2 separate regions of the Homo sapiens genome follow, and region 2 is reported to be linked to region 1. Evidence: microRNA targets listed by miRTarBase, many of them from high-throughput screens and not tested one by one. Region 1 holds a microRNA gene; the other region holds the end of a gene's coding sequence.

Evidence for each region. The annotated mature microRNA hsa-miR-138-1-3p reads GCUACUUCACAACACCAGGGCC and lies in region 1 at 3,849-3,870, shown strand. An mRNA with a match to its seed (bases 2 to 7 or 8) in the 3' UTR can be bound and repressed. Matches are read on the target gene's strand: a 7mer-m8 pairs with bases 2 to 8, a 7mer-A1 pairs with bases 2 to 7 and ends in A, and an 8mer does both.
Region 2: miRTarBase lists TMBIM4 as a target of hsa-miR-138-1-3p. Seed matches in the 3' UTR shown: 7mer-m8 at 3,583-3,589.

What each region holds. Positions count from the first base shown.
Region 1 is chr3:44,110,426-44,115,801 of GRCh38, forward strand. MIR138-1 (microRNA 138-1) reads left to right here and starts at 3,787; the gene lies at 3,787-3,885. LOC124909489 (a long non-coding RNA gene) reads left to right here. Exons shown (of 5, transcript XR_007096256.1): 4 at 852-987; 5 at 3,739-5,376. RefSeq lists an enhancer at 3,832-4,331.
Region 2 is chr12:66,133,660-66,139,035 of GRCh38, forward strand. TMBIM4 (transmembrane BAX inhibitor motif containing 4) reads right to left here. Exons shown (of 7, transcript NM_016056.4): 6 at 5,065-5,110; 7 at 2,187-4,507. The coding sequence ends at 4,301. It overlaps LLPH-DT (LLPH divergent transcript), which reads left to right. Exons shown (of 2, transcript NR_125724.1): 2 at 393-790. Among named protein-coding and RNA genes, the nearest start is that of LLPH-DT, 5.6 kb to the left of the region's middle.

The DNA of each region.
Region 1 (5,376 bases):
TCTTAAAGTAGACATGCTGTCTTAAATGCCTACAATAACATGTATGCTTTACTGACCATGTAGAATGATCCTAATACCTCAGAATTTGGAAGCCAAAAGGTCCTCCATTTAGAGGGTGATTGTCTATGAAAAAGCAGTGAAGAAATATAGATACGGCACACTCTGGAAAACACCTACTTGGGATAGGTTGTTTTATCTGAGTTTTATATTCTGATTTCCTGAAAGTCGGGGGGGTCTGGAGTGAGCAGGCAAGATGTCCAAGATGCAGAATCTCAGGAAGCACCCATGGTCTAGCTCAGACGAGAGCAGGATCAGCACGGAGGGTGCCTCTCTCCTCTCGCCCTGGCCCCATCCTGGCAACAGCATAACATCCACCCATTCAAAACCATGAGTGGACTTGAATACACTTCACACTGACACTAACTGCACTGCTGAGTGTTGGGCAGTAGTCCAGGAAGCGTTGTAAGAGACTGAGGAAGGGAGCCAGTAAAGGTTATCCATCAGGTTACTGCTGCTGGCACATGCGGACCTCTGTGAGCTGGTGTAGAACACATCTCAGGGTTATCCCACCCAGGGGGCCAGAGAGCCGGGTGTTTATCCACTAACCCCCGTCCGTCACTGGTTGATGCTCCTTGGGAATGTTAACTCCTTGGCACTCAGCCAGCCCACATGCAGCCTGAAGACCCCTGCTCTGGCAGGGGTCTGGACTGGGAGTTTGGGTGGCCATGGAGATGAAGAAATGCACTTAATATGGCAAAATATTGGAACTTTCTGGACATTCTGATGATTCACAGGGGACACAAAGAACAGATTTTTACTATCATAGTGCCCTTACACCCCCTGCTTTGCAGGAACTCCTTATGGAATGGAAGCACATCCAGGCTGAAGGCCCCTGTGTTCCAGATGCTGTGTGAGTGTTGACCTGCCAGGCGACTCCACGATGGCTTCCGTCCTCAGGTTCACCATCAACTAAGACAGACTGAAGATGTAAGTAGTAATGGAAGGACACAAAAGGTACAAGAGTCAGAGGCCAGGCCAAGAGTGCAAGCTGAGCAATGGGCAAGGAAGGCCTCCTTGATGGCTAGCTCCAGAACTGGGACTGCAGAAAGAGGAATTTTCTCGATAGAAAGGGGTGTGGGCCTTCCAGTCAGGTTCAGATCCACAGAAGCATGCACATGTGGTATGCTGGGGCACCACTGCACCACCGGGGAGGGTCATGCTGGAAAAGAGGCTGCAGGATCTGGGACTCACTCTATCCTGGGGCAATGGGGAGTTTAGGAGAGGGTGAGTCAGATCAGCATGAAGTTAGCCTAGAGTCAGGAAGATGAGTTAAGAGGTCTGACAGTCTATTGAAGTAAAATTATTCATTACAGAATAGCACCATGTATGTTTCTAAAATACTTGGTGCCATATTTATTCTCCTGAGGGATTCATCTGAGCACTTAGAAAAGAATAACTGGGCCATTGAGTCTTGGTTGAAATCATTCATTCATCCAACCAGTATTCATCAAGCATCTCCCACATGGCCAACGCTGGGAACCCAGTGTTGAAGTTGGAGGAGACTTCACTCACATGCCATGAGAAGTGCAAGGAAGAGGACCAGCTACCTGTAGAGCATGTTACAGAGGAGTCAGGTCTGGTCTGAGGTTGGAGGTCCAGGAAGTGACTGGAGTTGAAGCTTGAAGGAGTTGGTATTCAACATGCAGAACTGGGAAAAAGGCATTCCAGGCAGAGGAAGCAGCTTGTGTGAGGGCACTGGGGTGAGAGGGAGCATGGTTCATTTGAGAAGTTAAGAAAGCACAGAGAGGAGGAGAATAGGGAGGGTTAGGGGAAGAGGGGGTAGGGCCTGTGCCAGGCCTGGCCCTGCCCTTTAAGGTGCCAAGTCCTTGCAAGCATTGGAAGTTAAAACATGATGGCCATTTATTGATGATTTATTGATCTCTCTGTATCCCCTTGGGCACTAGCGGATTCTCGACAGAACCACAAAGTGGAGTTGGCTGCAGATGAGTCTGTTCATGGCCCCAGTTTCTCACCTATTCCTGAGTCACCTTTTGCCCCTCAGACACAGAGATGGGATAGCGCCAGGATGTGGGTTTGTGTTGTCTAATTTCTTGGAGTTTGTACAGGTTTTACCTGGTACCAGCGTGACCTTCCCATGTACCCTCTTGGTCAGCAACTTTTTACAAGGAGTTAATCCCACTTTCTGGAACTTGCTCATTCTCAAAGTGAGTGGTTATTGGTCCTCAAGACAGTCCGCAGAAATTTCAGCCCCATGGGAAAGAAAAAATTCCAGGTCTCTACCTGATGCTTGGAAAGCCAGCCATGTTAACTTAGTCAACACCAATGCTCATCAAATACACACATTTATCTAGTGTTCCCAACCTACATTCCCAGCCTGGGATTCTGTGGGCCAGAGGCCCCAGTGTAGAGATTATAGCCTAATGTCCCAGCAGAGAATCACTGATTGCAGATAGGAAAAATCCAGACATTTCTGAACTCCAAGACCACAGTGATTTATGTGGCCTGGTGATAAGCTATGATTGATATATTACTCAAAGTTTCTGCTTCCCCCAACTCTGGCAAGAACTTTGGCAGAACTTCTATGCCATATCCAGTACTAGGAAGTTGCCAAGTTTATGTCCTTAAAATAAAGTGGGTTCCAAGATAGATGGCAGAAAGTGGGAAATGTGATTTTTCTTGATTGGGTAACTAAGAACCACACAGCATGCGGGAGCCATTTTGGGCCAAAGAGCTGTTCATTTAAAGTGTTTATTGACACCTGGAAATAGGGTTTAAACTTCAAATGCTATTTTCACATCAAGTTTATGCTATATAATTTCATAATGGTGATAAAATCCAGGCAGCTACCAAAAGGAGAGCTCCCAAGTGATCTTACTACTGGGTTTCCGTAGTACAGACATTCAGGATCCTGGACCCGCTGAAGCCAGGGGAGGAAGCACCCTGGCGGGTCACTGGCTGATGGAAGGACAGGCGCCGTGATGGTTAAGTGTGTCCATGTTGGCTACCTGATTTCTTTTCAGCCAGTCTCAGCTTTGGTTGGTTTGTTTGACTGCCTCAAATCCTCGGTGGTCACCCTTATTTTTTATCTGGAATGTGTTCCCCACTCTGTAGAGGACTGAGCAGGGAGATTGCTGTGCATCCTTGAAGGGTTCCATTTTGACCCTGATCATCCTCAGTAGACATGGAAGCTACTCCAAGCGTGGCCTTGGAGGTTTGGGGACCCTGGACAGCATACAAATGGAGGGGTGAGGGGCAGCCGAGGGAAAGAAATTACTCAGAATATGCAGTAAGAACCATGTCTGGTTTCTGGTTTCTGTGTTTGGCAACACAGTAATGGGATTCCTTGCATTTCTCCCAGAAAAGCATTGGTGGGGAAAAAACTTTGTTCTGGGAGGTATGGTGATCATCAAATGCTATGAAGGCCCACACTGGACATACTTAAGCTGTGGAGGGCTGTGTTTCCCTTTGAGCATTTATTGAAGGCAGATCCTCTTCCCAGAGAAATACCAACACACAGGTAAGTTTGTGTTCAGGACCCGGGACTCCTTGGAGCCATGGATACCCACCCATGACCCCTATGGGATGGGGAAGTTCACAAAAGGCACAACGAAAAAAAGTCTTTCAGGTGGGGCTGGGGAAGGCAGTGAAATGTTAGCATATGCTTGCTTCCCGGTTCTCACTTCTGGCTGTTCTCTGTCCTCTCTCCACCTCCGGCAGCAGCAGCACAAAGGCATCTCTACGCCCATCGGCCTGCCCCAGAGACCTCCCTGGCATGGTGTGGTGGGGCAGCTGGTGTTGTGAATCAGGCCGTTGCCAATCAGAGAACGGCTACTTCACAACACCAGGGCCACACCACACTACAGGCAGCATTCCAGCTCCAGAACCCGCAAGGGCGCCCTCTGGCGAGGCAGCTACACCCGTCACAGAGGACCCTCGGCTCCAGAACCCAGGCACGCGGCTTTCCAGTTCTGGGCTGGCTGCTGCAGCTCCCCTGCAGACACTGGCCTCCTGAGGCTGCTGTTTATCCCCCAACACAAATGCTCCACTTTTAAAGAAAAAGACACTCCTGGTAACATTAGCTTCCTACAGAGAAAATGGTGCTACCAGGTTTCCCACTGTGAAAATGAAGTTATGGGCCATCAGGAGGGTTAAGCGCCACTCAACTGAACATTTCCTCCTAGGTGCCAAAACACACAATGGTTGCGGAGTTGGGACCTTTGTTTTGATACTTGGTGATGGTAGCTTTGAATAGGGCAAAGTAGAGGGAAGGGAGGACCTAGTAATAGGACGGTGGCCTCCTGGAGAGAGGAAGGCTCTTTGTAGCCACACATGCAGGTAATGCATCCACTTCCTAGATGGTCCCAGGGTCCCTGGAAAGCAAACACCTTTCTTGGCCAGGGAGAGTTCCACAGCTCTCCATCAGTGCATGTCCCAGTGACCTGAGGGCTGGACGAGAACCAAGCATGGGATTGTTCCTAGGGCACTGATCTGCCAGACACTCCATCAAAGGTAATACTTGCCATCACCTGTGCTGACAGATGGGCTTCCTTTCCCCAGGTCCTTACAGCCATGGACCCAGCAGAGCTGGAAAACTAATGGAGGTCTCTAGAGTTGGAGTAGTATTTTGTGCCTAACTTAAATCTTATATGTGACATCACCATTTTTCAGAGCCCAAGCAAGAGTTTTCAAGATAGAGTGGCTGGGTTGGCTGGTGTCCTTTCCATAACGCTAATAAAAAGGAGGATATTCCTCTCTCTAGTTTTCTACAGGACAAAGATCCAGAGCCACTCTGATTAACTCAGGCCCAGTCTATAGTCTGTTTGTATAGGGTTCTTGCTGCTCTGAAAACCAGAGAGACGGATAAAAACAAGCACCATGCAAACCTTGCATAGCACCCAGGTTACATAGAGCCTGAGTTAACCAGAGCCACCTGCATCTGTATCACCTTAGAATTATGGAGGGTGAGTCTACTTCTGTAAAGTTCTATCCCTCACTCCATCCCTATATCGTTAAGGGCATCTCTGAAATTTGTACTAAATTATGTTTAGGGACAAATATCTTCAAAGCAAAATAGTCCCAGTTTTCAGAAAGGGCTTCTTGCTGTCTCCTAAGAATTCATCCAGTTACCAACTCCCCTACGACCAACGGAGTCCAAGCTAGAGCCACTCATGGTGTGGTCCATGGGTGGCAGCTTCAGCATGTTGGAAAAGCAGGATCCCAGGGACCACCATGCACCTGCTCCATCAGAATCTCCAGTGGCCAACTCGGGGAACATAGCCAGACCTAATCTCTATAAAGAATGTTTTTAAAAATTAGACAGGGGTGTGGTGGCACACACCTGTAGTCTCATCATCT
Region 2 (5,376 bases), not on the chromosome of region 1:
TTTTTTTGGAAAATTTAAGTCATTTAGAAAGGATAAACTTACTACATGTTAACATTTTTATGGAAAATAACTATATTTTCTAAATAAAAAATAATTTAGTGAAAAGAATGGCATTGTTTTACATTTTAAAAATGTCAGATCTACTTTTGCTTATACAGAATCTTTAGTCACAATCAGTCCATTCCACCTTTGAACTGAAAATGGTATTAATAGCGTGCAAAAATGTAAGGGGGCCTCTCCCTCTCCCTCTCCCTCTCCGTCTCCCTCTCCCTCTCCCTCTCCCTCTCCCTCTCACTCTCCCCACGGTCTCCCTCTCATGCGGAGCCGAAGCTGGACTGTACTGCTGCCATCTCGGCTCACTGCAACCTCCCTGCCTGATTCTCCTGCCTCAGCCTGCCGAGTGCCTGCGATTGCAGGCACGCGCCGCCACACCTGACTGGTCTTGGTGGAGACGGGGTTTCGCTGTGTTGGCCGGGCCGGTCTCCAGCCCCTGACCGCGAGTGATCCGCCAGCCTTGGCCTCCCGAGGTGCCAGGATTGCAGACGGAGTCTCGTTCACTCAGTGCTCAATGGTGCCCAGACTGGAGTGCAGTGGCGTGATCTCGGCTCGCTACGGCCTACACCTCCCAGCCGCCTGCCTTGGCCTCCCACGGTGCCGAGATTGCAGCCTCTGCCCGGCCGCCACCCCGTCTGGGAAGTGAGGAGCGTCTCTGCCTGGCTGCCCATCGTCTGGGATGTGAGGAGCCTCTCTGCCTGGCTGCCCAGTCTGGAAAGTGAGGAGCGTCTGCGCCCGGCCGCCATCCCATCTAGGAAGTGAGGAGCGCCTCTTCCCAGCCGCCATCACATCTAGGAAGTGAGGAGCGTCTCTGCCCGGCCGCCCATCGTCTGAGATGTGGGGAGCGCCTCTGCCCCGCCGCCCCATCTGGGATGTGAGGAGTGCCTCTGCCCGGCCGAGACCCCGTCTGGGAGGTGAGGAGCGTCTCTGCCCGGCCGCCCCGTGTGAGAAGTGAGGAGACCCTCTGCCTGGCAACCACCCCGTCTGAGAAGTGAGGAGCCCCTCCGCCCGGCAGCTGCCCCGTCTGAGAAGTGAGGAGCCTCTCCGCCCGGCAGCCACCCCATCTGGGAAGTGAGGAGCGTCTCTGCCCGGCAGCCACCCCGTCCGGGAGGGAGGTGGGGGGGTCAGCCCCTGCCCGGCCAGCCGCCCCATCCGGGAGGGAGGTCGGGGGTCAGCCCCCCGCCCGGCCAGCCGCCCCGTCCGGGAGGTGAGGGGCGCCTCTGCCCGGCCACCCCTACTGGGAAGTGAGGAGCCCCTCAGCCTGGCCAGCTGCCCTGTCCGGGAGGGAGGTGGGGGGGTCAGCCCTCCGCCCGGCCAGCCGCCCCGTCTGGGAGGTGAGGGGCGCCTCTGCCCGGCCGCCCCTACTGGGAAGTGAGGAGCCCCTCTGCCCGGCCAGCCGCCCCGTCCGGGAGGGAGGTGGGGGGGTCAGCCCCCTGCCCAGCCAGCCGCCCTGTCCAGGAGGGAGGTGGGGGGGTCAGCCCTCCGCCCGGCCAGCTGCCCCGTCTGGGAGGTGAGGGGCGCCTCTGCCCGGCCGCCCCTACTGGGAAGTGAGGAGCCCCTTTGCCCGGCCAGCCGCCCAGTCTGGGAGGGAGGTGGGGGGGTCAGCCCCCTGCCCGGCCAGCTGCCCCGTCCGGGAGGTGAGGGGCACCTCTGCCCGGCCGCCCCTACTGGGAAGTGAGGAGCCCCTCTGCCCGGCCAGCTGCCCCGTCTGGGAGGGAGGTGGGGGGGGGTCAGCCCCCCCGCCCGGCCAGCTGCCCCGTCCGGGAGGTGAGGGGCGCCTCTGCCCGGCCGCCCCTACTGGGAAGTGAGGAGCCCCTCTGCCCAGCCACCACCCCGTCTGGGAGGTGTGCCCAACAGCTCATTGAGAACGGGCCATGATGACAATGGCGGTTTTGTGGAATAGAAAAGGGGGAAAGGTGGGGAAAAGATTGAGAAATCGGATGGTTGCTGTGTCTGTGTAGAAAGAAGTAGACATGGGAGACTTTTCATTTTGTTCTGCACTAAGAAAAATTCTTCTGCCTTGGGATCCTGTTGATCTGTGACCTTACCCCCAACCCTGTGCTCTCTGAAACATGTGCTGTGTCCACTCAGGGTTAAATGGATTAAGGGCGGTGCAAGATGTGCTTTGTTAAACAGATGCTTGAAGGCAGCATGCTCGTTAAGAGTCATCACCAATCCCTAATCTCAAGTAATCAGGGACACAAACACTGCGGAAGGCTGCAGGGTCCTCTGCCTAGGAAAACCAGAGACCTTTGTTCACTTGTTTATCTGCTGACCTTCCCTCCACTATTGTCCCATGACCCTGCCAAATCCCCCTCTGTGAGAAACAACCAAGAATTATCAATAAAAAAATAAATTAAAAAAAAAAAAAAAAAAAAAAAAAGAAAATGGTATTAATACCATCAGCTGACATTAATTAAGCACTTAGTTTAGTTTATTTATCTATCTCATTTAATCCTTATAACAGCCCAATAAGCTAGACATCATTATTCCCATTATGAAGATGAGGCAGAAGACCTAAGGAAGGATAAATAATTCGCCAAATGTCACTTAAGCACCTGGTTGGACTGCAATGATTCTAATCTAGATGCTCTTACCCACCATGCTGTTAAACTTGATTGCACTGCATCATACACTTGATAATTCAACAGTTAATGATAATAAAGTCAAATTTACATCTACAAATCATGCAAGCTTAAATTGATACTACAAGTTTATTTCAACTTAATAGCTGGGAAATACTTAGGGGGTGTTATGGGCTGAGTTGTAGTCCCCCCAAAATTCACATGAAGAAATCCTAATCCCAGCACTTCAGAATGTGACTGTATTTGGAGATAGGTTTTGAAAGAGATAATTAAGGAAAAATGAGGTCCTCAGTGTGGGCCCTAATCCAGTATGACTGGTGTCCTCATAAGAAGAAGAAATTTGGGCACAGACAAGTACAGAGGGAAGGCCATTTAAAGACACAGGGAGAAGATGGCCATCTACAAATCAAAGAGAAAGGCCTCAAAGGAAACCAACCCTGCTAACACCTTGATCTTGGACTTTTAGCCTCCAGAACTGTGGGAAAACAAATTTCTTGTTGAAGCCACCCAAGCTGTAGAACTTTGTTATGGCAGCCTAACAAACTAGTACAGTGAGGGAATTTGACAAAATTTCATTGGTTACTGGTACACTGACCTAACATGCTGTGTGGACCAACACAAATGAAACCATAAGACAATACTTCCCAAATATTTTAATTTTGAAATAGATATACTTAATGGCTGATGACCCAGTATCTTTGGTGTCCTCTAACCACATTACCATTCTATAATTTCAAATGAAATCTATACTTTAAAAACAATTAATGTCAAATTTTGTCATAATATCTGACTTTCAGGCCAACTTTTAATGTTAGTACAATTTAAAATAAAAAGTCATTAACATTTTAATGTAATACTGAATAATTCTCTGTGGAATTTATCTTTTACATTTTTTTCCTTTTAAGCAAAAAGAGATTTACAGTTTATAATGGTAAAGACTCTACTACTTCAGAATCAAAGCCAAATCAATATTACTTAATAATTCAGGGAAAATTTAGATAAAATCACTAGACAACGGTAAACTGATATTCTTATCTACTCATAAAATTATTTTTGAATTGCAAACGAACTGCTATGCGTGGCTAATTTAGGAAGAAAAATTTTTTTTTTTTTTTTGAGACTGAGTCTCGCTCTGTCACCAGGCTGGAATGCAGTGGCGTGATCTTGGCTCAATGCAACCTCCACCTCCCAGGTTCAAGCGATTCTCTGGCCTCAGCCTCTTGACTAGCTGGGACTACAGGTGTGTGCCACCACATCCAGCTAATTTTTGTATTTTTAGTAGAGACGGGGTTTCACCATGTTGGCCAGGATGGTCTCAACCTCTTGACCTCGTGATCCACCTGCCTCGGTCTCCCAAAGTGGTGGGATTACAGGCGTGAGCCACTGTGCCCAGCCAGAAAAGCATTTTTAATAGAATTTTGATAGCTCTTAACTGAGATCCTAAATCAAGGATTTAGAAATGAGGTATCATAAAGAATAGTAAGATTTTAAAGCTCTCAAAATTACATATGATACAAATAAAGATTGTAACAGTATTTAATCATTGTTTCAAACTTTATTACTTAATGAAACAGTTTCTATATACTGCTTCCAATTACTTTAATCCTTTTTTCTCATTAAATTTTTTTTGTTGTTCTTCAGTTGAGCTGAGATACTTTTAATTACTTTTTATTAACTGCTTCCAGAAACCGTAACAGGTGCAGGAATAGATTGATGATATCCAAGTAGAGGCTGATGGCAGCTAATACGTACTCTTCAGGTGACAGTTTATGCATCAGTGAGTGTGTGTCATAGATGATGAATCCACAGAAAAGAAGGGCTCCTGCAGCGGCTAAGACCAACTCCATTATCTCACTATAAAAAAAAAACTATAGGGAAGAGATTAAAGAAATATGTTTATATTTGAGAACAGTATTAACAGGACTTAACTTACTTCCTCTAATGATTTACTGCTACATTATACATTTGACAATGGTGTACAACTTTGAATACAAATGTTAAAAGCAGAAAAAGGCAAGGCAAGTCCAAACTTGCCTCTGTTGGATGGAAGGATGAATGAGTGGTTATATTCCATTAAACTAAATTACCCACTTTGAAAAACAGCATTCCACATATAAATTATTTAAAAATATATTTCGTTTTTCACAATTAAATGTGCCACTGGAGCTTGGCAGTTGTAAGCAAGGGCCTCTTTCTATGTAATTTAATTCATTTATTCATTCATCTTTTTTTCAGTCAATAATAAGGACCAACACAAGACCCTGATTTTCTAAAGGGATAATTCTATAATCATTCTATATACAAATGTTCTGGATAATTATAACTAAGTGTCCTATCATAAGAGTATCTCTTATAGCTTTTTGAGGTTATTTATATTGACACAGCCAGAATTATATTTCAAATTAACCATTATAACATAACTTACCTTCAAGAATCCTGACAGGCACAATATCCACAAAAGAGCAAACAGCCTATAAAAATACAATTTTAGTAATTTGCAATATTGTTCCTTACAAAAAAACTTTGTAAACCCATTCAACACTTTCTGAAAAAAACATCCATCTGGATTTTTTGCTGAAGAATAACTAAAATGTAAGAATTTGTAAACATACAATGAATATAATGCCCATCTTGGATCTTTTTTTTAAAGAAATTGAAAGAACAGCTATTTATTCAACATTTGTCTTTATGGTATACAAACCTAGTTAACAGTATAATTTGTGAAGTTTTGGAACAT